Homo sapiens: one gene and its partners. The protein of the gene in region 2 interacts with the protein of the main gene of each other region in a biochemical or structural test. Each region holds a gene or a part of one and is shown on either strand. Other genes may lie near its edges.

The links.
Region 1: the proteins of RADIL (region 2) and PKP4 interact in a test that uses a peptide from one of them, tested with the Homo sapiens proteins (one large-scale study listed by IntAct).
Region 3: the proteins of RADIL (region 2) and GNG4 interact in a test that uses a peptide from one of them, tested with the Homo sapiens proteins (one large-scale study listed by IntAct).
Region 4: the proteins of RADIL (region 2) and ARHGEF16 interact in a test that uses a peptide from one of them, tested with the Homo sapiens proteins (one large-scale study listed by IntAct).
Region 5: the proteins of RADIL (region 2) and CSPG4 interact in a test that uses a peptide from one of them, tested with the Homo sapiens proteins (one large-scale study listed by IntAct).
Region 6: the proteins of RADIL (region 2) and SDC4 interact in a test that uses a peptide from one of them, tested with the Homo sapiens proteins (one large-scale study listed by IntAct).
Region 7: the proteins of RADIL (region 2) and PTPN18 interact in a test that uses a peptide from one of them, tested with the Homo sapiens proteins (one large-scale study listed by IntAct).

What each region holds. Positions count from the first base shown.
Region 1 is NC_000002.12:158,459,952-158,463,451, reverse strand, and holds part of PKP4 (plakophilin-4), read right to left. Parts: intron 1-3,500. UniProt on the Homo sapiens protein: Plays a role as a regulator of Rho activity during cytokinesis. May play a role in junctional plaques.
Region 2 is NC_000007.14:4,835,217-4,838,716, reverse strand, and holds part of RADIL (ras-associating and dilute domain-containing protein), read left to right. Parts: intron 1-1,266; exon of another isoform or gene 1,267-1,329; intron 1,330-2,111; coding exon 2,112-2,359; intron 2,360-3,477; coding exon 3,478-3,500. UniProt on the Homo sapiens protein: Downstream effector of Rap required for cell adhesion and migration of neural crest precursors during development.
Region 3 is NC_000001.11:235,580,285-235,583,784, reverse strand, and holds part of GNG4 (guanine nucleotide-binding protein G(I)/G(S)/G(O) subunit gamma-4), read left to right. Parts: coding exon 1-45; intron 46-3,500. UniProt on the Homo sapiens protein: Guanine nucleotide-binding proteins (G proteins) are involved as a modulator or transducer in various transmembrane signaling systems.
Region 4 is NC_000001.11:3,453,528-3,457,464, forward strand, and holds the start of ARHGEF16 (rho guanine nucleotide exchange factor 16), read left to right. Parts: upstream 1-1,137; 5' UTR 1,138-1,284; exon of another isoform or gene 1,285-1,301; intron 1,302-3,908; exon of another isoform or gene 3,909-3,937. UniProt on the Homo sapiens protein: Guanyl-nucleotide exchange factor of the RHOG GTPase stimulating the exchange of RHOG-associated GDP for GTP. May play a role in chemotactic cell migration by mediating the activation of RAC1 by EPHA2.
Region 5 is NC_000015.10:75,692,349-75,695,848, reverse strand, and holds part of CSPG4 (chondroitin sulfate proteoglycan 4 precursor), read left to right. Parts: intron 1-2,615; coding exon 2,616-2,779; intron 2,780-3,500. UniProt on the Homo sapiens protein: Proteoglycan playing a role in cell proliferation and migration which stimulates endothelial cells motility during microvascular morphogenesis. May also inhibit neurite outgrowth and growth cone collapse during axon regeneration.
Region 6 is NC_000020.11:45,334,925-45,338,424, forward strand, and holds part of SDC4 (syndecan-4 precursor), read right to left. Parts: intron 997-3,500; coding exon 858-996; intron 1-857. UniProt on the Homo sapiens protein: Cell surface proteoglycan which regulates exosome biogenesis in concert with SDCBP and PDCD6IP.
Region 7 is NC_000002.12:130,354,813-130,358,855, forward strand, and holds the start of PTPN18 (tyrosine-protein phosphatase non-receptor type 18), read left to right. Parts: upstream 1-1,243; 5' UTR 1,244-1,295; coding exon 1,296-1,388; intron 1,389-4,043. UniProt on the Homo sapiens protein: Differentially dephosphorylate autophosphorylated tyrosine kinases which are known to be overexpressed in tumor tissues.

The DNA of each region.
Region 1 (3,500 bases), on a different chromosome or scaffold from region 2:
TCTCCTGCTGATTTCAAATATCCTTTTTTTTTTTTTTTTCAACTGTGATCACTTTCAGACAGAAAAGCCAGCTTAAAGAGTTAATTTACAAGCTGCATTTGGGCAAATGGTGTTAAATGATGAACACTTTCTAACGCTTTATTCATGTACTGACTAGCAAAGACATTTTATAAAATGACTACTACCTGGGATTACAAACGCAATAATTGTATACATTCTCCTATACTTGTTGGCTAGCGGTGGTTAATGCCTCTCTAAGTATTGCCTACCGCAAGAAGCTACAACTTCCCTACTTAAAAAGGCCCTTAATTACTGTGCTGGATTCTCTTTTCTACAATGTCCTGCAAACTATCAAGCTCACAATGGTTTCTGTTCAGCAGTTTATTTCTTCTCTGAAATATCCTGTTGAAATCCATAATCATTTTGACAAAACCCACACAGAAAGCAAGCCAATAATTTCCCTGGCATTTGGTAAATGCTGCAGAAACCATCATAAAAGCACCACAATGTAAAAATAATTATTTCAATGTATTAAGCGCTGGCTCTGAACCAGCTCCTGTTGTAAGCACTTTACATGTATTAATTCATTTAATCTCCCCAACAACCATATGAAGTGGGTACTTTTATCACTCCATCCTACAGATGAGCAAAACGAGGACCACAGAGATTATACAATCTGCCAGGTTACACAGCCAGCAAGTTGCAGTGCCAGAATTGGACCCTGACAGTAAGGCTGCTAATCATGACACCTCACTACCTTAATGACACTTCATGAGCCTCACTGAGTATGAAGGTGAAATCCCAAGCACTTTCCCTGGCCAAAACTACCATATGTAATCTCAGACTAGGGTAGAGGCAGACAGCAAGACTTTGAAAACATGTGCTTCATCCCTTCCCCTCACTTCCCAAAATGATATTGTTTTAAAACAAAACAATTAAAAATGAATGTGAAGAAGGTTCAAAAGTCTCAAAAGAGAAATTCAACTTCCTTGTTGCCATGATTTGAGGTACAAGGGGAAACAGGGCTGATTATGTATATTCAAGCTTGGAAAAGTTTTTTGTTCTTTTTTTTTTCTTAAGAAAAATTTTTAAAAACCACTGTGAACTTCAGGAATCTTGAGCTAAAATATAACTTAGATCAATATAATCCAAATTGTATTTTTAAAAGGAGGAAGCTATCATCCAAACATTAAATGGTTTGTCAAGGTAATAAGGTTTAATGGCAGATCTCCTAATTTCTGATTTGGGATGCTTTTTACTTCCCTCATGCTTGCAATTCAGACACAGCTTGCAATGGGCCAAAACTTCAGATACCACCTAGCCAGTGTTTCAAAAGTCTATTTGTAAACTGATTGTGGGTTTCTATGAAAAACTGCATTCCAAGTTTCGGGCCAGGCCCCAAAAGCCTGCATAGTACCCTGATAGCCTCACTTCAAATACATATTTTACCTAACCTTCATATACAGTATCATTTTTGTGTCAAACCCCATACCTGTTTTAAATTCAACCTGGAATACAGGACACCAATGTCTACATTTTATGTACATGGTCTCAGGCCATAAGGAGCTTCCTCTGCCTTGCCAAGCTCACAGATGTGGTGATGGCATAGTGTGTGTGTGTTGTGGCAGGGTGGTGGGGGCAGTGTAGGGGCACAGATGAAGGAAGAGCAGTACTAACACCATTAAATATTTGCAACTCACCCAATTTATATTTAGTGGAGAGGAAACTATAGAAGTCAAACATGCCTCAGATGTCAAAGAAAGGTGCTTCCCCTGGCCCCCTCCCTCCCTACCCTATATTGTGAGTTCTGGATTTTGTGAAGACTGTATTATTCTATATCTAGCTACCTGGATTGGCACCCACCCAGTCACCAGGCATTATTCCATTCAGGAAAAATGCTTTGCAATCACATGACTTACAATAACTCAGACACTTCCACATTTTAATTTATATATTTGGTAGTAATAAAATCTCACAATACAATCCCTAACAACATTTTATCAGCTGCAATGAATCATTATATATGAGTCATAATAAACTATAATGTTATCAAGACTATGAATAATAAAATGATCAGTGATATAGCCAACATTTATTGGTATATCAAACAAATCTGAATTATGAAAAGGAAAAACAACAGGTCAATGATGAAGAAAATGTCTGCAACATTCCTAAGTTTAATTGAAGATCACCATCATGTAACATCCCCAATTTAGTAATGGTAACATAGCACACTAAATTAAGATAATTCCACTGAATTATTAAAGTGACAAGGTAAGAAATATTTGAATGTTATGCAACTTCTGAACTGAAACCAGCAAGTACATGAATTACTGTTCTTGGCAACTTAGAGCCTGATTACCTTACCTTGAAATAACCCTGTTATTTCTTATCACTGAGCATCGAACTGACCTGCTGACTGCTATCATCACTTCCATTGATGTAAGAATGAAAGCTTACATCCACGTATCTTAAAAGTTTTCCTTCTTTTCTCTATTTGCAGCTGTCTGTAGTGTTGTCTGGCTGTGAAATAGTTATTTAATTCTCCAAACATACCTAGTCCTCTGGTGTTATGTTTCAGATTCTTCTTCCCCCTTCAGTGCAGGAAGGGCACTACAGAATCATTTCACACATTGAAGGAGTAACTATCTCCCTGTACACTTGAAGGCGTGAAGGCAAACTTCCCAAACTGACATACAATACCATAGGCATTTATGCCCTAAAATAACCCTATAGTAACCTCTATTTTACCTTCCATTTAAGAATGAAGATATGATGTCCATTTTAGAATTAAGCAAGGTAGGGAATTACTGCTCAATTGAAACAGAAAGAAAAACACATTAGATTACAGAGCATTCTCAAAATACCTTAATATTTCAAAAGAGTCAGGTAAGAGACTAGACTTACCTGATGGTTGGCATCATCCAGGGTATGAATATTATTTAAATTGATCCCTGGGTAACAGCATGGAAATTACTAAGGTCAAAAATTGCCAATAATTGCATTTTCAAAAATTAAAGCGAGTTTCAAATTTTTACATTAAATTTACTTTGCCTATTTACAAGAAAAGGAAGAAAACTGCGATTCTAATTTAAACCTAATCCAAATACTCAAGGTCATAGAAATGCTAAAATTTTTATTAAACTGAATTTGGTAGTAGTTTCTTTAAATTCATATCATGTCAGAACTAGTCACAAAATTAGATTTGATTTATTCAGCTTATAAATGCATTACTGCTGCAATAATGTATATAATTTTACTTTCTGGCTGAATACTAGCTGCCCCTAGTTTCTTCTTCCCTTGTTTTCCATCAATACTCTGCTCCCTTATCTCCCTCCAAAAACAATACAGGTAAAAATTAAAATAATTGGATATTTAGCTTTCCCAACTTAGACTCTTCAGTATAATACATAAGACACCAGATGCAGCACCCTCTCCTTACATAATAGTAGGGGGTGGGGAGGGAATGCACTTTGGTCAAAATACAATTTCGGTTATTT
Region 2 (3,500 bases):
CCTCCGGCCCCTCGTTGGAGGCTGGCAGCCTGGCCCTTCTGCACACATGCAGGCCTACCCAGCACCAGGAAGGAGACCCTGGGAGTGGCCCCTGCGTGTCAGCATTGGTTCCGACCTGCAGAGAGCCCAGCCCTGGGCCTCAGGAGGCTGTGGAGCCTTGCCTGGAGGAGCAGGGTACACTCAGCTGCGAGCCACTTGCCTGGGGCTGCAGCCCCAGGGGACACAGGCCTGGGACATCCCGTGCCGCATTTGTGGCCAGGTCCTCTGGGAGCCCCTGGGACTCTAGGAGGAGAAGCAACCCTTCCTGCCCCATGGCCCTGGGACTTCCAGCAGGTCACTCTGAGGTCACCTCCTACAACCTGGCCCTGGATTTGGGAGAAAGTTGAGGGCCGGAGCATCATTTGGAGCTGTTTTTGTTCTTCTTTCGGATCTGGCCCCATAGTTGTGCAATGAGGCTGAGCTGTGGGGCTGGTAACGCTTGTGGGAGTGGCGGGTGGGATGAGGTAGGGGAACTGGGCCCCACCTGCTGGGCACCTGCCGCCTGCCAGGCTGGGCCGGGTTCTGCAGGCGGCAGGAGCACGGGTGGTGAGCAGCCCAGCCCAGCAGCCTCGCACTGCGGCTGGGCGGCCTCCCTCACGCCCTGGCCCCCTGCGGGCTGCAGATGCACAGGCTGCCGGCTGCCTTGGGAAGGACGGCGGGGCTGCTGGCGCTGGTAAGGGTCTTCCTCAGCCAGCTGACGCCTCCCTCCATCCGGCTTTTGTTTGGTTTTATTGGGAATGGTTGGAGGAAAGGCCGCCACAGATGGGGATGGATCTTAACCTGAAAGGCTGCGTACAGGGAACTCAGCAGAGGGCTCAGAAAAGACAGCGCCGGGTCAGCTGGGGACTGGTGAGCGGTTTTCATCTATCGCAGCCGGCTGGCTTTCCCAGAGCATGCATTTAGAGAGCGTGTCTGTATTTATGAGATATTAAGTCTTCTAAGGGTGTGTGTTATCTCTGAACTGTGCGCATGTTTGTGTGCATGTATGTGTTAATGTGTGTGGGTGCATGTGTGTTGGCGTGTGTGTATGTGTGTGCATGTGTGTTTTTGGGTGCATGTGTGTGCATGTGTGTGTGCATTTTTGTGTGGGTGCATGTGTATTTGTGGGCATGTGTATGCACACGTGTGTTTGTGTGTGTGCCTGCTTTGGCTTGGGGGTATCAGAGACAGCCTTGGGAAGGAGGCAGCGATGCTGTTGCAGGAGCAGGCCATCGGCAGCCCCATGGGCTGGGGTGATGTGGCACAGTGACACCTCCTCCTTGTAAAGTAGGGGCAGGATGCTGACCAGTCCGTCTCGTCTCGTCAGAGCACCACCCCCAGGGGAGTTTCGCCTGGTGCACAGATGGATGGGGCAGGGCTCTGGAGGCGGCGTGGTGACCCTGCAGAGGCCCAGGCTGCCGTGGGAAAACGTCTGTGGTTTGAGGCCTGTGGGCCGTGGTGCTGGCTGGTCGGGCAGGCCGCGGTGTGACCCTGGGCTGCTGCAGGGGAGGCGTGGTCCCCTCAGCCTGAGGATTTGACAGGCAGGCTGCCTGCTCTGAGACTGTTCTGTGGGTGCCACGGTGGTGCCAAGGCACTGTCTGGTTTTTCGAGGGGCGTGGCTAGAGGGCAGAGTCCTTGAGTCTCCACCAGACCTGTTTTGACAGAACAGTAACGGCATTAGGAGACGTGGCTTAGTGGGATTTGAACTCAGAAGGACCCGGGACATGGGCGCTATTAGACTTACCTGTTTTTTTTGGCGGGGGATGGAGTTTCGCTCTTGTCACCCAGGCTGGAGTGCAGTGGTGCAATCTCAGCTCACTGCCACCTCCGCCTCCTGGGTTTAAGCCATTCTCGTGCCTCAGCCTCCTGAGTAGCTGGGATTACAGATGCGCACCACCACGCCCAACTCATTTTTGTATTTTTAGTAGAAATGGGGTTTCACTGTGTTGGCCAGGCTGGTCTCGAGCTCCTGACCTCAGGCGATCCCCCCACCTCGGCCTCCCAAAGTGCTGGGATTACAGGGGTGAGCCACCGCGCCCAGTCCTGGTGCTATGAGACTTCTAACTGTTCACCTTGTGTTGCTTCTGTTCCAGGGATAAACGCCCAGGCCCGGAGGCTGCAGCGGAGTCGCGCGAAGGGAACCCCGACCCCGGCCCTGGGGGATGCCCGGAGCTCTCCTCCACCCCGGTTGCGCCGCACAGTCAGTGAGACCAGCCTGAGCCCAGTGAACGCCCTGCCCGCTGCCGCCCAGGGCCCCGAGGAGCCCGGCCCCGACGCCATGCGGTACTCGCTGTACCAGTCCCCGCATCTGCTCCTTCTGCAGGGCTACAGCCAGCAGCACGTGAGCCTCCCCTCCTGACACCCACTGCCCGGTGCCACTGCAGGGACAGCAGGCGGGACTCAGAAGTCAAGGCCTCCGCCTGCCTTTAGCCCAGTCGGCCGCGAGCTCTGTGGCTGCAGCCCCTCTGGCTGTGCCGAGGCTGTGGAGTGGGATGGCGGGGGCACATGTGGAGTCATCCACATTTTCCCTGTCCAGGCCACGGTGGGCGGCAGTGGGGGCTCCTCACTTCCCCAATCCCAGAGTGGGTGCCCTCAGCACCAGGCGCCTTCAGGGAGAACTCCTCACGCCTTCCCAGCCTTGGTCTCCCGCCTGGCTCTGGGGAAGGGCATGGGCAGTTGGCCAGGGCCAGTCTGCTTCCTGCTTCTGGCGAGGGGGCTGCTGAGTCACCAATTGGTGGCCACATTCTCTGAAGGGGCACCGAGCAAAGGCCCATGCCACCCCTATCTGCCCAGAGCCGTTTCTCACCACTTCCATCAGAGCAGGCAGGCTGTCGCCCCGAGCAAATGCCAGGCGCAGGGCCACCTCGCCTCACCTTGCCGGACACTTGCCCTGCCAGACAACTGTTTTCCCCGCCCCCTGCTCACCCTACCCCCGCCCTCCTGTGCAGCCAGCTCCTTTGCTGCTCATTTCCATGAGCACTTTACAGCCATAGGGCTCCTGTGCCCAGGTTTTAGGTGGCATCTTCCCTCGGGGCAGTGCTCTCACACAGGCGGCAGTGCTCCCACACTGGGGGTGGTGCTCCCACACAGGCGGCAGTGCTCCCACACAGTTTTGGGGATGACTTGGGGGAAGTTATGTAGTCCTTGGCCCGGTCTGTAGAACCAGTGCCTGTTTCCCGGCCAGCCCTGACCTGGCCTGTCGCTGTCTCAAAGCTGGGTGTCTCCTGGGTCTCTCGTGTGCTCCTCCGGGAAACCGACCTCCTCTGGGATGGGCCCGGACATCGAGGGGCGGGTTCCTGAGAGCCGTCGGGGTTCTGGTGTGGGGGTGGCCAGGGACATGGAGAGCCCGTGGCGACAGCATCCCAGCCACGCTGCTTCAGCAACCAGTGACTAGACACGGGACGCTTTTCCCGTGTGCTGCTCGCGTTACGCCTGCCCTGAGCGGAGTCTCTGTTTCAGGACAGCCTGGTGTATGTGCTCAA
Region 3 (3,500 bases), on a different chromosome or scaffold from region 2:
GCTGTGGAGCAGCTAAAGATGGAAGCCTGTATGGACAGGGTCAAGGTAAGCATGCATGCGTCAGCCCCACCCTCCGCCCGAAGCTCAGCTCAAAACATTCCTCCTGCTTCCAAAGCAGACTTGTGAGAGTTAACACGTCACCCAGCAGAGCATGCAGCCAACCTTGGCAGCTGTAACATTTACAAATGAGTGTTTGCTTCACAGTTCTAAGTGTGCCCAAGGATTCAAAGGATGCAAAATACACAGTGTGCATGAATTCCATAAGGAGTCTCCAAAAATAGACTCATAATTCATCTCGGCTCTATTTAGCTCCGTTGTCATGCCAATAAGCAAGAAAGAGAGTTTAGCAATGAGATCAATCACTTTTCTGCTGTGATACAGTGCCTTTGAGGTTCAACAACATCGGATATTTTGACAGGATTATTGTTGAGGGTGGAGCTCTGAACCATGCCTGGGTGTGTCAAATATTCCTTTGGTGAAAATGAAGAAAGGTTCCAGACACCTCCCGTTGTATTCATTTCACTGATGAGTGCAGGTCTCTCCACGCTGGGAGGACTGCAGCAAGATGAAGCCACCTCTTCTCCAGATGCCACTCAGAGGTGAGCAGAAGGCCAGGCAAAGCATGTGGCTCTGAACGAGTCCGTGAGCATGACGCTCGTTGACTGTAATAGAGTTGAAAGGAACCCCAACTCTGGTGTCGGGAACCTGATGCCAGGAAGCTCCATGTGTCTGTGGTCTTGGGGAACACAAATCAGAGGTCTCACCTGGGCATCTGGGATTCAAAAAACACAGAATCCATGGCAACGGGCGACTCCTGAAGCCTTCTATGGACAGAGCCTCCCTGACCCCTCCCCTCATGCTAGTGTATGGCTAGAAAGCACCAATACTCACCTCTGTGTGGACAGTTATTCTTTTCCCCTGGAGCTCTGGGGGTACAACCTCTCCAAGGAGGCAGAAAATATGCACGGAAAGTTACATGAGGGTATATGAAGCAAGGAAGGAATCCAGCGTGATGTAAGTCAGTATCACCGGACCCATGTTACTAGAGCATCTACATCTCATACATACCGATACCAACTGCAAATTACATGTCAGTCCTTGGTCTCTAGACTAGAGGAGGGAGCAAGTTTAGAACCCAGAAAACAATTCTAAGACACAGCGGGTCCCAATAGCATAGAAAGGGGTTTCAAATGAAAGCTGCAGGCATCCCGTGCTCCAGAAGTGCAGACAGGAAAAAGGATGAGGACTGCAGTGAAAGGCATTGCTGAGCACCTAATCTATACTTGAAGGGTCCTGGGAGAGAAATGTGAAGGCGACAGTCTCCTCCGTATGGCTCAGGGAAGACTTCTCAGAGTTGTGAGCTATGGCTGGCTCTGAGCTGATAGTGGAGGAGGAAAGGCCGGTGTGAGCTAATCACGGCTCGTGTGGAGCAGCTGGGCAGCGGGAGGAGCTGCAGGTTGTGCTGGGAAGAGAGCTATGGGAGGAGGGCGCCATGCACACAGGTGCGGAAGCCACAGCCATGAGGTGACAGGTGTGTGAGGTGAACCAACCTGTAAGCAATAGACGGAGTTGTCAGAGGTGAGGAGGTAGTTGAAGCTCTGAGTAATCAAGAGAGGCAAGGAGGGGCAGAAATCGGGTACAGTGTGGAGCAGACAGCAAAGATGCGATCGGGGAGGCAAACACACCAAGAAAATCAACAGAACATGGAGAGTAAACGTGGGAGGCACTAGGGAGAGAGACGTTAGAATCCAGCTGTCAAGCCCCATGGCCAGAGACCTGAAAAGACAGTGGGCCCCAGTTTGGGCTATAAGGCAGTTCTCCTTTGCCCAGGCGTTCTCTTCTGGCAAGGAAGATAAATTCTGCAATAGCATCTTCACCTGCCACAGACACCGCCCCAGGAGCCCCTGTGAGGACCGGGTGTCTTCAAGAATGAAGGCTTCTTCAAGAGTCACTTAGGCACACACACTGTCACTAAAAGAAAGAGGAAAGTCAAAGACAAATGAGTTACTGTAGGAGTTCATTCTCACATTGCTGTAAAGAAATCCCTGGGACTGGGTCATTTATAAAGAGATTTAATTGGCCTGTGGTTCCACAGGTGGTCCAGCAAGCATGATGCCTGTATCTGCTTGGCTTCTCAGGGCGGAGGGTGCGGAGGCCTCAGGAAATTGAAAATCATGGCAGAAGGTGAAGGGTAAGCAGGCACATCTTACATAGCAGGAGAAAGAGAGAGAAGGGGGAGGCGATACACACCTTTTTTTTTTTTCTTTTTTGAGACGGAGTCTCGCTCTGTCGCCCAGGTGTGATCTCGGCTCACTGCAAGCTCCGCCTCCCGGGTTCACGCCATTCTTCTGCCTCAGCCTCCCGAGTAGCTGGGACTACAGGCGCCCACCACCACGCCCGGCTAATTTTTTGTATTTTTAGTAGAGACGGGGTTTCACCGTGTTGGTGAGGATGGTCTCAATCTCTTGACCTCGTGATCCGCCTGCCTCGGCCTCCCAAGGTGCTACACACTTTTAAACAACCAGATCTCTTGAGAACTCACTCACTATTACAACAACAGTACCAAGGGAGATGGTTTTAAACCCTTCATGAGAAACCACCCCCATGTCCAATCACTTCCCACCAGGCCCCACCTTCAACACTGGGGATTACAATTTGACGTGAGATTTGGGCAGAGACACAGATCCAAACCATATCAGTTACTCAGGTGATATTCAATCAAAGGGATAGGCAGGCCAGATGTGGTGGCTGACGCCTGTAATCCCAGCACTTTGGAAGGCCGAGGCAGGTGAATCACCTGAGGTCAGGAGTTCGAGACTAGCCTAGCCAACATGGTGAAAACCCATCTCTACTAAAAAATACAAAAATTAGCTGGGTCTGGTGACGTGTGCCTGTAATCCCAGCTACTTGGGAGGCTAAGGCAGAAGAATCACTTAAACCCAGGAGGTGGAGTTTGCAGTGAGCCAAGATTGTGCCACTGCACTTCAGCCTGGGCAACAGAGGAAGACCCCATCTCAGGAAAAAAAAAAAAAAAAAAACAAAAAACGGGATAGGCCGCCATGTTGCTGTGCTGACCATAATGGAAACGTGAAAGCAAGATTCCTCAGGGGGCCTGCCAGAGGCTAATTCAGATCCTGTGGTAATTCCAGGGAGTAGGCCAGTGACAGCTGTGTCAGATTTGGTTCAGAAACAGAGTTGGTGGAAACAGAATGTTGTCATTGAAGAGACAATGCCTGAGGAGAGAGCTGAACCTAGGAACCGCATCTGTGCCAAAGATGCGTGAGCACACATGGGTGGTTTTTGTTTTTTTCTTGCTTGGACACCCTTGAACATTAATTTTTTTAGTTGTGGTAAAATATATATAACATACAATTTATCATTTTAACCATTTTTAAATGTACAATTCATCAGTATTAGGTACATTCACAATATTGTGCAACCATCACCAGCATCCACCTCCAGAACTTTCTCATCTTCCCACACAGAAACTCTGTACCCAT
Region 4 (3,937 bases), on a different chromosome or scaffold from region 2:
GGGGACTAGTGGGTGGGGCGACCAGAGCAGGAGGGGCAGGGCAGGCCGCCCCTCTACCTATGACACCTGAGAAAATGCCAAGTGACAGCCCCAGAGCCTGTGGTGTCTCCTCAACCCGCAACGGGATCTCACGGCCGCCCAGGCCAGGGAGGCAGGTCCTGGGAGGAGGGTGGTCAGTGCCTCTGGCTGGCACACCGGTGCCCGGCCCACGACCCCAAGGCCTGGGGTCAGTGAGGGGACGCTGGTAGAAGCTGACCCAAAGCCCAGTGTGGATGTTCACATGGAGGCCTTTGGCAACAGGCCTTTCCTGAAAAGGGGATGATGGAGGCAGGTCAGAAGTGGGTCTGAGCCCTGGGACCTCAGGTCACATTCCTGAATGGCCAGGCCCAAGCTTGGGAGGCTTGGCTCAGCCCCCAGCCCCTCCCACAGCACCAGGTGGCCTGATTCCTGAACCCCCAGCTGGGGGGCTGCTGCAGCCTCTGCCCGGGGCCCTCCCTCACTTTCACACGGGTTCCCAGCAGGCGGAGCAAGGAAAGGCCAGGCTCGGAGTCCAGGCTCAGCCTTGTGCACGAGGGCGAGCGCCTTCCTTTCCAGGACTCGGTCCTTCTCTGTGAAATGGGGATGACCGCGACTCAACCACACCAAAAAGGTGGCCAGAGTGCTTTGCGCCCTCTTGGCTGTCTTTGGCCGCCTGGCTTCCAAGAATCCAGAGGGCCGGGCCTTTCTACAGCAAACATCGGTCCCCGCAGGGCTGGTCTCCTTCCCCGAAGGCTTCCTGGAGGAGGCAGTGGAGCGGGGCCTGGAAGGACAGTGACGCAGGAGGGAGCCGAGCCGCTCTGGCCCCACGCCTGGCAGGCGACTCCCGGGCCGGCCTCGAGGGGGCGTGGGCGCGGGGAGGGAAGGCGCAGGCACCGGGCGGCGGCGGCTCGGCGGGAATCGAGAGGCGCGATCCAGTCCGGGCGATCACGTGGGCTCCAGCCGGCCCAGGTGGGGCTGTGACCTGTGACGCAGGCGGCGCCGCCACAGGTGCCCGGGACGCGCCCCGCCCCCTCCCCGGCCCTCCCCGCCCGGGCCCTCGGACCCGGAGCAGCCCCGCCCGCCCAGCGCCCACCTGCGGGGCCGCAGCCGCCGCCCTCCAGCCAGACCGCGCAGGAAGCGGAGGAGGCGCCCCGGGCCGGACCGCGCTGCCGCAGGAGCGAAGCGGCTGCAGGACAGGACAGGACCCGGCGCTGGAAGCTGCACCGCCAGCGCGCCGCCCCTCCGTCCCTCCGCCCCGCGGCGCAGGTGAGCCTGGGGGACAGGTGAGCCGGGGGACAGGTGAGTCGGGGCTCGGGGGAGCCGGGTGGGGGGATTAGCCCGGGGGAGGCGCCGGGAACCCGGGGCGCTTCTCCTCCCCCTCGCTTTTCCCGCAAGCCCCGCCCCGGCAGCCGCAACAACTTCGCGACCCTCCTGGGGCTCCGCCGGGGCGGGAGAGGCGGGGCTCGCGGGCTGAGCCGGATGCGACTTTGGACCCGCCCCCCCACACACACCAGGCAGCCCCCTGCTTGCCCCCGCCCGCTCGCTCGCTGCCCTCTCTTGACCCCGAGTGGCCGCTTCCTCTTCCTAAAGGAAAACTTCCATGCAACCGGAACCTGGGTTCAGACTTGAGCGCCGAGGACTCTGGAAGCCCCAGGGAGTTTGAAAGAGCATGGGGTGGGGGGCGGAACAGAACGACCCTCCCGGGAGCTCTTTGGGGAATCTGACACCCAAACCTGCTTTGGCCCCAAAATTTCAGAAAAGCCCCGAGAAGGAAGAACCCCACACCCAAGACAAACCCAAACCATACGCCCCTCCCCCACCCTTGACCTTGGTGGGCGGTGGCAGGGAGGGACCTGCTTTGTCTCCCCTGAGAAGGGAGATGGGGAGGGGGAGGGGTGCGTCCCACCTACCAGGGAGCCGTGGCCGCTTGTCTTGGCCGCTCAGCCTCTTTCTGCGTCTGTGAAATGGGAACAGTATCCCTTTTGAGATTTGAGCAGGTGGGGGGACTGAGGGAGTGGCAGCGATGGCAGGTCTTGGTGACCTCTGCTTCTGACCTGAATCAAGGCCTGAATCTTCTCTGTGTCCTTGAGGGGAACAGTCTGTGCACCACCTAACATGGGGGCCTAGGGGGTGCGTGTGGGCCTGGCTGGGGGTCCAGCAAGAGGGTCCAGGTGCTGTGCCTGGCTGCAGGTCCTGACCCCTCCGTGGCATAGTTCCCAGGTGTGTGGGTTTCAGGCTCACATCCTGGCTCTTTGTGAACTAAGCAGCTCTTGGGGCCTCGGTTTCCTCATCCGTAAAATGGGACTAGTAGGAGTGTTGAGTTAGAAGATGTTGACCCACAAGTGTGCCAGGCAGACGTGGACCCTGCTGTGCGATGCCCACAGCCAGCAGAGGGGAACAGGGTGAGATGAAAGGTACTGTCCAGAGCAGGAGCCATGGGCTGAAGGTAGGCACTCCTCACCCACCCCAGTCTTGCTGGAAGGGAGGTGTCTTGGGGGCTTCCTGGAAGAAGTAAGTCACCTGGACCAAAGTCACCTGGAGGGTGGGATGGGCCCTCCCTCCACCTGGACACTGGGGAGAAACCCTTGTTGGGGGGCCTCCCTGAGGTCGCTGGCTCTTCGGGGGCCATCTCTGACCCACAGGACCACCCTATGTGGGAAGCACTTTCCACCTACACATGAGGAAACTGAGGCACAGAGGTGAAGCAGTGAGAAGCGGCGTGCCAGGGTCCCCACAGCTCACATGTGACGCGCAGGTCCCCATCCTGAGGATGGCCATCTGTGTTCACGTTGTGATCCAGGCGCAGGCGCTCCCCGCGAGTTTGGGTCTGAGTTTTAGTTTTGGTTTCCAGATGGATCTGGGCTGCTCCTGTCCTTAGCACAGGGGACCATCCGTCTGGAGCAGCGTCCTTATTTCTAGTGACTCCCTGGCTGAGGCCAGAACCCCCACTCCCCCCGGTCCCCATTTGGGGACAGCCATCCAGGTCAGGACAGGGCCTGGCCAGCAGTCCCACCCCCGCAGGCCACATTCCCTCTGCACCTGGTTTCCTTACCTGCCCGGGAAAATACCCACCTTCCAGAAGTTTGGGGAGGGGCAGAAGACAGTGGATGACAGGGCATTCAGAGGGCACTGTCTGTGTGTCTGTCCTACAGCGGGTGAACGGGTGGCAGGAGACCTGTCACCCACACGGGCACCTGTCAGAGGCAGGCTCTGATTCCCACCCTTTGGGGGAACCCCGTGAGTGGCAGCAGAGCCAGGGACAGCAGCTGGGTTTATGGGATGTCTCATTCAGAGCCGGAGCTGGGGAGTGACTGGAATGCACTTTGGGCTGAACCAGCTATGTCCAGGTGGGAGGGCCAGGTGCACTTCCCCGCCCCCACCGCGCAGGGTGGCTCTCTGCTTAGCTGCCTAGGATTTCCCTACCGCAGCCCTAGGGACCTTGATCCAGATAACAGGTCTCTCCAGCAGCCTTGCCAACCAGTAGCCAGGACTCCTGACTACCAGCAGTGTCCCCAGACGTTGGCAAATGTGCCCTGGGGGCCAAAACTGCCCCAGTGAAGGCCGCAGAGCCAAATCCCTGGCCACCTTGCAAACGGAGCTGGCTGATGTGTGCTGCATGATTTGCAAAAGCAAGTCCTCCCCCCGATTATGTGACTGAGTCCGAAGTTTGACGGGCAGAATTACCGGAGTACAAGGGCATCATTGTAGCTTGAGTTTGCCTTCACTGAGGTTGGATGGACAGGTGCTAGAGAGGCCGCGCCCCACTGGGCCGAGTGGGGTCAGCCGGACCTAGAGGCCAGGGTAGGAGGGACAGAAATGCCTGAGGGTGGGACCACATGAAGCTGGAGGCCTGTGCAACATCCTAACCGGAGGGGCAGCAAACTTGGGGCAATTGGGTCCTGGTGGCCGTGACAGCAGC
Region 5 (3,500 bases), on a different chromosome or scaffold from region 2:
CTGTGTACTTCCTGCCAGTCTCACTCGGCCTTGCTGCTGTCCTCTGAGACTGCCTATTCCTCCCTCTCTGTGTCTGTACACCACCGTGACCTCCTCCAGGAAGTCCTCTGGATTGACTCCTAGCTTATTACATCTTAATTCTGCACACCCTCTCCATTTGAAGCCCCTCTTCAACTGCCCCCCCACCACCTCCAAGACAGGGATTCTGAGTTCTTGCAACTGAAGCCCCTCAGAGAGTGTAAGAGGGGCAGAAAAAAGGAGACCAGGAGGTGGAGGGAGTGGCGCTGTCAGAGTTTCCAGAGCCCTGGCCAGCAAGGCCTCAGAGGCCTCTGTTGGGGTGGGGGGCTGCCTGGCCACGCGCTCCAGCAGCACAAGACAGCCTGTGTGAGCCCCTCCCGCTCAGCCCCACAGGAAGCAGCAGGGCCCAGCCCCTCAATGGACCCATTCAGACCCCAGCGCTCTGGAAAGTACCTCTACTTCCTGCCACCCTCCCACTCTGGCCAAACAGGCTCTACTCTCCTCTGCTGGGAGGGGGCTGCAGGCAGGTGGTTCAGTGGTTAGGGCCAACCATCTAGTTCAGTTCCTGCCTGGCCCAGAGCCCTGATGTTGACCATGACTTGGCGGGTCTACATATACCTTTAGTGCAAGGGTGGGTAGGGGCAGGGACATGTGCCCCCTTCTCTGTGGGTGCTGGATAGGTAAATGTTTAGCAATGGGCTTTCTTGGGGAGGGGGAACCCTGATTTGCAGTATTTGCCTCTTTTCCTGGTATAAATGTTCTCACTGTGGGCAGTATCACCTGGCTCTCAAAATTCCTGAAAATTCAACAGTAGACTCCTGGCAGCTGCTGTCAGCCGCTCCAGCAGGTGACGGTGGTGGCTCTATCCTGCAGGGCCATGTGCCCCCACCCCTTGTGCTATGGCCTCCCTCACTTTAGTGTGCTGTGTTTTGCTCTTAGGAATCAATGTCTTTGCAGATAAGGCACCCCGGTAGGTGGCCGCCACCTGCAGTTCCCTGGTCTGTCCCTTGCTGGCGCCAAGCTCTGCTGAACCAGCTGGGCCGCCCCCGCGCAGATGGTCTGCAGGGCTCCCTTGATTCCCGTAGCTTCCCAGACAAGGTGCTGGTATTGCCAGCAGTGCTGGCAGGAGGAGATAACTAGAGGGGATTTAACTCAGCCCAAGGGGTTCTTACGGGATCTTTCTTGGACATCCCTCCCAGTGGGGCTGGCTGCCCTTAGGGTGTACAAGTCTCCGACTCCTCCAACGGCTGAAGCTGCTTACTCAGGCGGATGGCAGCTGGCTCAGGCTGGCCAGGGACCAGCACATGGGGCTGGTGCCGGATTATCCCTATCAAGGCCGTCAGCCTGTGCTCGCTCTCGGGTTTGAGGGAAGCCCAACAGGAATGAATCACCGTTTTTAACCCGTGTTTCTCTACCCCCCAGCCCTGGACATCTGCAGGCAAAGTCAAAGTTATATTTGGCTCTTATCACCACAAAAGGCATGGACCAGAAATTGTGGCAGCGGGTTGGAAGTCAGGGAGGCTAATCTGGGGAAACTGACTGGAGGAAGCAGCAATTCAAAAGAGGAGGAGTCCCAGTATGGGACAGAACGGGCCCTGCATAGGAACCACTAACCCCAGGCAAGCCCAGACATGGCCTTCTGCCTGGGGAGGCCCTCTTTGGCCTGCCCAGCAGACCCTCAGCCCCTCCCAAGCCCTGTCTTCAGCCTCAGCCTGCGTGGTGGCCTGGGGAAGTTAGGAACTCAGCTGTTCTCATCCCTGGTTCCTTGGCCACGGTGGAAACAATGGGGCCGGATCTGACTGCTCATCGGGGACTGTGAATAGCTCTCCAGCAGGAAGCAATAGCAAGGGTAATGGAGGAAGTGTGGGCCCACTTTGGTTTGACACTGCACATGGTCCCCATCTGGCCTCAGAGCCTTTGCTCCTTGGCAGACTCAGGCCAATAAGCTCCTGCCCCGACGCTCAATGGCAGCTGGAAGAATGGCCTGAGAGAGAAGCGGGGATAGGTGGGCCATGCTGACACCACCCCCAGATCCCAGTCGTGGCCTCAGCCAACCCATGGAGGCGGGGCATGGCACAGCAGGCGCTGCACAGGAGCCCAAGCACAAGGGCACTTAGGAGAAGGAATCTGAGCAGGGATCAGTCTGGACTGGGGGTGATTCTCCAGAAACTCCATTCCTTGGGGCTGTGACCACCAAGCCAGATGGTCAGGCCAGTTGCGGTTCCCTTTGGGCTGGGTCCAGGAGCCAGACCCACGAGGGAGACTCCTCTGGGGCCCAGGGGAGGCGAGTCAGAGCTGGCGGAGGCCTCTGGCTCCAGGAACCTCCAAGGAGGAGACCTGAGTTGCTGGGAATTTCTGGGTCTGACCTCCTGTAAATACAAGATCTGGGCTGGACACAAGGTGAGCCTGTGCCTTCTGGTGCCAGGACCAAGAAGATGCTGGGACCCGGGCAGTGCTCAGAGGCAGCACCATACAGCAGAACCATGAGGGTGCGCCAGCACGGACCCCTTTCTGCAACCCACCCGTCCCTCTTTGCGGCACCTCGCCTCCTCCAGGCAAGAGTCTGAGCCTTGACCACAGCTCCCTCTCTCACACAGCTTCCTTCTTCGGTGAGAACCACCTGGAGGTGCCTGTGGCCACGGCTCTGACCGACATAGACCTGCAGCTGCAGTTCTCCACGTCCCAGCCCGAAGCCCTCCTTCTCCTGGCAGCAGGCCCAGCTGACCACCTCCTGCTGCAGCTCTACTCTGGACGCCTGCAGGTGAGTGACGTCCCCCTGAGATCTGGGCGGGATTCGGGGTGGGATTCCTTCTCTAGCTTTGAGTGAACCCCAGCTGGCTGTGTGACCTTGTGTAAGTCACTTTTATCTTGGGGTCTTAAGTTCTCCACTGTGGGATGGGCAGCAGCAGCCCAGAAATGGTAAATCCTTCATGAACTGGCTCTGCCCACTGGCTCCCTCCAACCATGTTTCCCGCCACAACCCCTCGCTGGCCCTTTGTGCTCTGACAGCCCTGAACTGCTTTCAGTTCCTGGCCATCTTACAGTCGCTTGCTGCCAGGCTCTTGATGCACACTCCTTCTGCCAGGTGTGCGCCTCTCCCGTTCCCTGCACATGCCTAACTCCAGCCTCTCCTTGAAGTCTCAGTGTGGGCATCCCCTCCTCCTGGGCTAGGCCCCCTCCTGAGCCCCCATGACCCCTGTGCATCCCGGTGGCACTGCACCAATTTCTCTGCAGCACCATGGTCTGTCCACGACAGTAACAGCACCAGTACTGCCTCAGCTTCCTCATTTTTCCATTTCATCCTTCAAGACACCACAAGCTTTGTTAGCAAGGAGTCTTGTGGCTTTTTTGAGTCTTCCCCTAAACCATGAAGAGTTTAAGAACCCAGGGTCTTATTCCGAATTTGTGCCAGGCTGGGTGCAGTGGCTCATGCCTATAATCCCACCACTTTGGGAGGCCAAGGTGAGAAGATCACTCGAGCC
Region 6 (3,500 bases), on a different chromosome or scaffold from region 2:
GCTCAGTTCACACAGGATGGAGGCTTGAACTCAGGACCATGTGACTCCAAAGCTAAAACTTGCAAAGCTAAAACTTGCAATCATTAACACCTCTCTGCACATAGGAGGGACACTTATTAGCTGTCTGGCCTAGAGGCCTTGGGCCCTTCACCCGCCCCCACCCCCACTGAAGCAGGGACTTGTTCTTGGTTTCCCAACTACATCTCTGCCCACTCATGCCCCCTCCCACCCCATCCCCACTTCTAAGCTGCTACTTTTCCTTTTTTGTTTTGAGACAGGGTCTCACTCTGTCACCCAGGCTGGAGTGCAGTAGCATGATCTTGGCTCACTGCAGCCCCAACCTCCTAGGCTCAAGGGATCGTCCCACCTCAGCCTCCCAAGTAGCTGGGACTCCTACAGGTGCATGCCACCACATCCAGCTAATTTTTGTGTTTTTGTAGAGACAAGTTCTCACCATGTGGCCCAGGCTGGAACTTTTCCTTTCAAAAAAAGGAAAACACTCTATGGGTCCTCCTTCCCCACTCCCACCCTGTCCTGCCACCCATCCTACCCTCACCCCACCCCCACCATGCCCTGCAGAAAAGAGAAGAGCTTATGAGGACACGTTCAGGCTGGAGCTCAGAAAACCCAGAGCTACCAATGACTTCAAAGCAGCAAACAGCTTGTCCCCAGGGGCTCTCAGGGATGGAATAGGTTAATCCATTACTTTTGTTTCCCCTTTTTTTGAGAAGGAAGAAGGGCACTCTAGGAAAAGTCCCACAAAAATCCAAGTCTCAAGGCATGGTCACCCTCCTGGCTGGTGAAGCCACCACTCCCTCCAGCTTTGTGCCTACGCCTGCCCAGCACACCTTCCGTACCCAGATCTCCAGAGCCAGACAGCTCAAAGTCATCAGATTCCTGCCCGGGCCCCACTACATCCTCATCGTCTGGTAGGGCTCCGGAGAAGTATCGGCCTTCTAGGAGGTCCTGGGGGTCGATGACCTCAGTCTCTCGGATCTAAGATAAAGAAAGGAGACACATCAGCCAACATCCCCAGTGCTCCATGACAGCTGATGCCCAAAAGCTAGTGAAGTGGGCATTCAGAAACTAGAAAGAGACCAGGCCAGGGCCTGGAGACCTGCGTCCTGGATCCCACTCTACCTCTAACTCACCGCGTGTCCTTAGGCAAGTCTCTTTCCATTCTGGGCAAATAAAAATAGTACATGAGGCTGGGCACAGTGGCTCACACCTGTAATCCCAACACTTTGGGAGGCGGAGGCAGGCAGATCACTTGAGGTCAGGAGTTCAAGACCAGCCTGGCCAACATGGTGAAACCCCGTCTCTACTAAAAATACAAAAATCAGCTGGGCGTGGTGGCTTACGCCTGTAGTCCCAGCTACTCGGGAGGCTGAGACAGGAGAATTGCTTGAACCCGGGAGGCGGAGGTTGCAATAAGCCAGGATCACGCCGTTGCACTCTAGCCTGAGCTACAGAGTGGGACCCCCGTCTCAAAAAAAATAAAAACAGTAAATGAGGTAATAATCAAATTATTAATATGGCTAGATATCCTTTACCGAGCACTTGCTATGTGCTGGGCCCTGTTTTAATAACTCTGGAGGCATGTTATTCACTTCTTTTTACAGCCGAGGGAGTCATTTTCTTTTGGTGACACAGCTGGCAGATGGAAGAGCGAGGATTGCATACGCAGGGCTGCCTGACTTCAGAGCCAGGAGTCTCCATGCACAGGGCCCTGGGATGCTACACTCCAGGGCTCTGTGATGCAGTGGCAGCTGATTCACACAGGACAGGGAGTGGGCTCCTGGTTCTGGTCTTGCCCAGTCCAGGATACTTTTCCCAGCTGAGTCAGTCTGGGCCGGGACAGACAGGGCTGCCTCACGCACACCCTAAGACAGCCTCAGGTCAGGGCGCTGCCCAGACCTGATGACTCAGGAGTGTACTCCTGGATTCAGTCTTGCCTTCCAAACATCTCCCACAGATCTACTCTGCTGCCAGCACCATGCAGACACCGAGAGGCACAATCCCTACCCTCACAGACCATCCACTCCAGTACCCATAATCATCACTCAGCCACTACCCTGTGGAGACACAGCTGATCAGGACAGAGTCTCAGGTCCACTCCCACCAAACCGCTTGCCAAAAGAAAGTGTCAAAGGTCCCGGGCAGCCCTACAGTACATCAGTTACCCTGCTCCCATCCTGTAGCTCCACCGAGTGGGAACAATGTACCCTCAAGAGCACAGGAAACATTTGGATGCCCATCACCCTTCCTCCAGCTTCTGGGCTCAGGCTTCTGTTTGCCCAGAGAACAGCAGCTCTGAGCAAAGTTCATTATTCTACTAATTAATTCAAACACTAAAGTGCCTAGTATTTGCCAGGAGAGTTGGGGTTTTTCATTAAGTTCAATACACCATGCCCCTCCCGCTGAAAGACATTCCCATCTTCTCCAGACGCCATAACTGCAGGAGCTGGGGGTCTGCTTAGAATCACAGAATGCCAGGACCCAAGGAGCTCCTGTCCTCCCGTTTCACACAACTTGAATCTGAGCCCGGAACAGGGCAGGGACTTGCCCAAGGTCACACAGAGCGTTCGCTACATAACTCAGGATAGAAAGAGGTCAGGTCTCTGTTTCGGACACCCCAGGCAGTCCTTCACTCAGCTGAGACTGCCATTGACAAAGGAGGGTGTCTGAGAAGGAACATCTGTCCCTAAGATAAGGTTATTATCATTGCAGGAGAGGCCCAGGAAAGCTGCTTCAGAGCCACTCCTGTACTCTCCCCACTGGGCTTCTGGGGAGAGGCAGGTGGAACCTGACCCTCATGCACCCTCTTCCACCCCCACAGAGGGAGAATGCTGGATTCCCGGAAGGGAGCGGGGTCAGGCCACAAGGAAGGCAGTGGCCAGGAATCACTCTCTCCCGGGGAGTGGGGAGAATGCTGAACGCTTGGCACCCGTGGGGGTGGAAAGCCAGAGAGGTTAAGTGCTGCTCAGAGATGACTTCATGACTCGGGAATCAGGAGCTGCCGGGCTGCTGGTGCTGGAATTCAAGCCCCCGCACATAGCCCGTGCCTGTGGCTTTGGTTTGGCAGAGCAGGAGGAAGGCTCCTCATGGCTGCCCAAGTGCCTATACCTAAGGGCAGGGTCCCTGTGCTCCTACCTCCATCTCCTGTGGCAAATCCCCCAAGAACCCAAGTGACAGGCCTTAACCAAGCACACAGCCTGTCTAGGTCCTTTTAATAGTCCCTTTTTGCAGAGATGGAAACAAGGGCTCAGAAAAGTAAAGTCACTTGTCCAAGGCCACACAAGCAGGAAGTAGCCACACTGGGCCAGAACCCAGGCTTCACTGACCTGGACATTTAACCACAAACACATAAACACACGCATGAACACATATGTACACGGGGTCACCAGCCTGCCCCAGGCTCCAAGGGAGCCCTGTTAAGTAGGGGGGTCAATCTAGCCGGGAGAAAGAAAGAATGGTACACTTTGGCCAGCTGTTGACCA
Region 7 (4,043 bases), on a different chromosome or scaffold from region 2:
CTAGAATAATTCATGACACATGAACATTACATGAAATTCTGATTTCTTTGTCCATAAATGGTTTCTTTGGGACACAGCCACACTATATTGTCTGCTTTCATGCTGCCACAGCTGAGTTAAGCAGCTGGGGCAGCGATAGCAAAGCCAAAACCACTTCCTACCGGGACCTTTAAGAAAGTGTGCCCTTAAATACTCTGATAGCCCCTAGTGAATTAAATTGACCACCTGACATCATGCCCCTGTTGACCCTTCAGAGACTCAGGCACACATCCAGGCCCCAATGCTACCTTTCAACCCCTCAACGACCTCAAACTGGTGTCCACTGACGCCCCTTCCAGTGACACCCCTCTTAATTCTTCCGACCTCGGCGAGAAGGGGGCTAACCTAGGCCTGTCCTTGAAGAGACCCAGGTGCCAGTCCATTCTCTCCAGCCTCCCCTCGGTGATCCCGGAAGCTGGAACGGCGGCTCTCCTCTGACCTCTGCACACTTTCTGAAGATGGGAGTGTCAGGGCAGGCAAAAAAGAGAAGCTCTTCGTTCCCCAGAACCCACTTCCAGTGCCTCAGTTCTGTTTCCCAGCAGGCTTGTGCAGGTCGAGATGCTCACACAGGACTGACCCTGGTGCCCCAGCGCATCCGGGAAAAAGGAACCACAAATTCCTCGGGAAATACACAGAGAAGATCCCGCTGCCACTTGGCCTTTCCCACGGCGTGGCTGCCCCTCCCCGGCCTCCCTTGGGCCCGGCTGGAGCGCACAGCGCGGGACGCCCCCGACCCGGGGTCCTCTGGCACGAGGGGCAGCCTGATCTCGGCGACCGTCTCCACCCAAGGCTGCTGCCCGCCCCAGCTCGGACTCCGCGCGGCCTGGCTCCCAGGGGACGGGCGGGAGGGCCCGGCGAGACCGCTCGGCCGTCCACCCAGAGCCGGCACCCGGAGGTCGGCCCCTGGGCGCGGATCCCGATCTGAGGGCGGGTCCCAAGCGGCAGGGAGCGAACCTGGGACCGTGCCACCCCCCCACCAGTGGGCGCGGCAGCCGAAAAAAAGGGGAAGCGCCGGCGCTGGACTCTGCTCAGGGCAGCCCGCGAGGACCTAGGGCTCCGGCCACAGCGGCCCGAGCGCCCGGGGTGGGGCTACGCGGGCTCAGAACACGGTGGCTGGGGCGCCCTGCCCGCCGCTGCGCGCTTCCATTGGCTGCCGAGGCAAGGGCGGGGACTCAGTCACCGGCCTCCGCCTCCCGCGGCGTCCACACTCGCCGCGCGCGCGGCGGCCGGGCTGGACCTTGCTGGCCCGCGGCGCCATGAGCCGCAGCCTGGACTCGGCGCGGAGCTTCCTGGAGCGGCTGGAAGCGCGGGGCGGCCGGGAGGGGGCAGTCCTCGCCGGCGAGTTCAGCGTGAGTGGCACACGGGGTCCGCGAGCGGCGCGCCCCGGCCCTGGCCCTGCGTACGCCTGTCCTCCGCGCACGGCGGGCTCTGCCTTTCTGTCTCGGTGTCCCCGGTGTCTCCCCGCCTCGGGGGGTCTCTCCGTGTTTCTCTCCCCAGCACTTCTCTGTCGCTCTTGCTGTCTCCGTCTTCACTCTCTGCCCCCCGGCCCCGGAGCGCGACGTCCACGGCCAGGCCGGGACGGACCGTGCACACCCTCGTTCCCGGTGTCCTCGTCGCGCTCCCGGAACAACCTGGCTGCGGGCGGGACAGGTGGGGCGGGCGCCGCAGGGGAGGGCGGGCGGCCCTGCTGCGCTGGACAGCCCCGGCCCCGCCGCTTCTGGCGACCTGACTGTCCCCTGTGACCACAGGAAGGAAGGGGCTGCAGCAGGGCGAAGAGGAACACGGAGGCTGTGGCGTGGTGAGGGTGTGAACGCCGGGCTCGAATCCGCGTCCGGGCCCGAATCCGCTTCCCGTCCCGAATCCGCGTCCCGGCCATCCGCGTGTGGTCCAGGCGGTCTACCTGGCCCCTCTGACCTCGGCTTCTCCCTTGGTGAAATGGGGACATGAATGACCAAACTGGTCTAAGGATTAAATGATGTGGGTGAAAAGCACTTAGTACATATTGGGCGCACACTTCGTAGGGGCGTTCGTCACTGCCTATAAAGATTCTAAACGTGGGCCAGGTGCGGTGGCTCACACCTGTAATCCCAGCACTTTGGGAGGCCGAGGTGGGAGGATCGCTTGAGCTCAGGAGTTCGAGACCAGCCTGGGCAACACAGCGAAACCCCGTCTCTACTAAAAATACAAAAATCAACTGGGCATGGGCGCATGCCTGTAATCCCAGCTACTAGGGAGCAGAGACAGGGGACTCGCTTGAACCTGGGAGGCAGAGGTTGCAGTGAGCTGAGATGGTTCCACTGCACAGCTGAGATGGTGCCACTGCACTCCAGCCTGGGCCACAGAGTGAGATCCCATCTCAAACAAAACAAAACCAAACAAAAAATCTAAACGTTACAATACAGGTAGTGCAAGCCCAGCATTAGGAAGGCTCACGCAGAATGCTAGGCACTGTACATTACAGTTGATGACGTGTTTAAAGTGTAATCGCTTATGTACCAGACATAGAAACATACCATACAAACGCATAAACTGATATATGGTGACATGTATCAAGTTTAGAAATATGACAAATATATAAAAGTATTATAAATGACCGTTTATACAATAAACATTGCATAACTGCATAAAACAATACAACAAATGAATATAACAAAGATTATAATTTATAAAATGACCAAAGTTATTTGATAAATTCATAAGTAGATATAAAATATGTAACAGATGGCCGGGCACGGTGGCTCACGCCTATAATCCCAGCACTTTGGGAGGCCGAGGCGGGCGGATCACGAGGTCAGGAGATCCACACCATCCTGGCTAACACGGTGAAACCCCGTCTCTACTAAACACACAAAAAATTAGCTGGGCGTGGTGGCGGGCGCCTGTAGTCCCAGCTACTCGGGTGGCTGAGGCAGGAGAATGGCGTGAACCCGGGAGGCGGAGCTTGCAGTGAGCCGAGATCGCGCCACTGCAGTCCAGCCTGGGCAACAGAGCGAGACTCCATCTCAAAAAAAAAAAAAAAAAAAGTAACAGATAATTATAAACCTAAGTAATTTACACACATGTAGAAACATTGTATATAAGAAACTAAGAAATGCATAATAAATGTAAAATATATAATTATACAATATAAGAATGTGTGTAACAAATGTAAACATAATACCCATGTGATATATGACATCATGCGACTGGGTGGGTTCTGAACCGTGTACAGTGCGGAGGGCCTCACATGCGGAAGGCTGGGTGGCGAGGGCACCCCTGCTCCCCAAGCCTGCCTCCCGCATGTGCAGGAATCACTGCGCTCTTCTAGGTGTTCCCACTACACAAGGGCATCATGAGGGCTTAAATGACCCAATGGACACAAGTAAAGCACTTAGAATAGTGGCTGGCACACAGTGGTGGCATGGGTGTTACTTATTATCATTGAGATTACGAATACCTGACGATGATGGTAATACACGATTCACTAATTATTATTATAATCTCCCAGTAACACAGTGCCTATAGTATCTTGTACATAATATGTTATCCATTATAATGCCTATGCATTCATTGTACATTGTCTTATATGTTTAGCTACATAGCCCATAATATATTTCATTACAGTTATTGCTTACAAGACAATGTCACAGATTGAGTGTGCAGGGGGTGGGTGCCGAGAGGGTCTGAGTTCAACCCTCACCGTGTGACTTCCTGGTTGGGACCTTCCACAAGTCGCTGAACCACGTGGTGCATAAACTTTCCCGCCTGCACAATGGGGACGTCAATAATAGTACCCACGTCGTAGGAACCTGTGATGATTACATGCCCTTAGCACAGAGAGTGGCACAGAGAAGGTGCCCTGGGTCACTATTTCGGTATCATTATTATTAGGCAGGCCCAGTGCCATCAGGGTCTGCACTCACCTCCCCAGGCCACTGGCTTTGTATCCTGCAAGCGTGCCTAGGTGGCCTGGGACTCTGACCTGGCTCCTCTCCTGTCTTCTCCCCTCCCTGACCCACTCATAA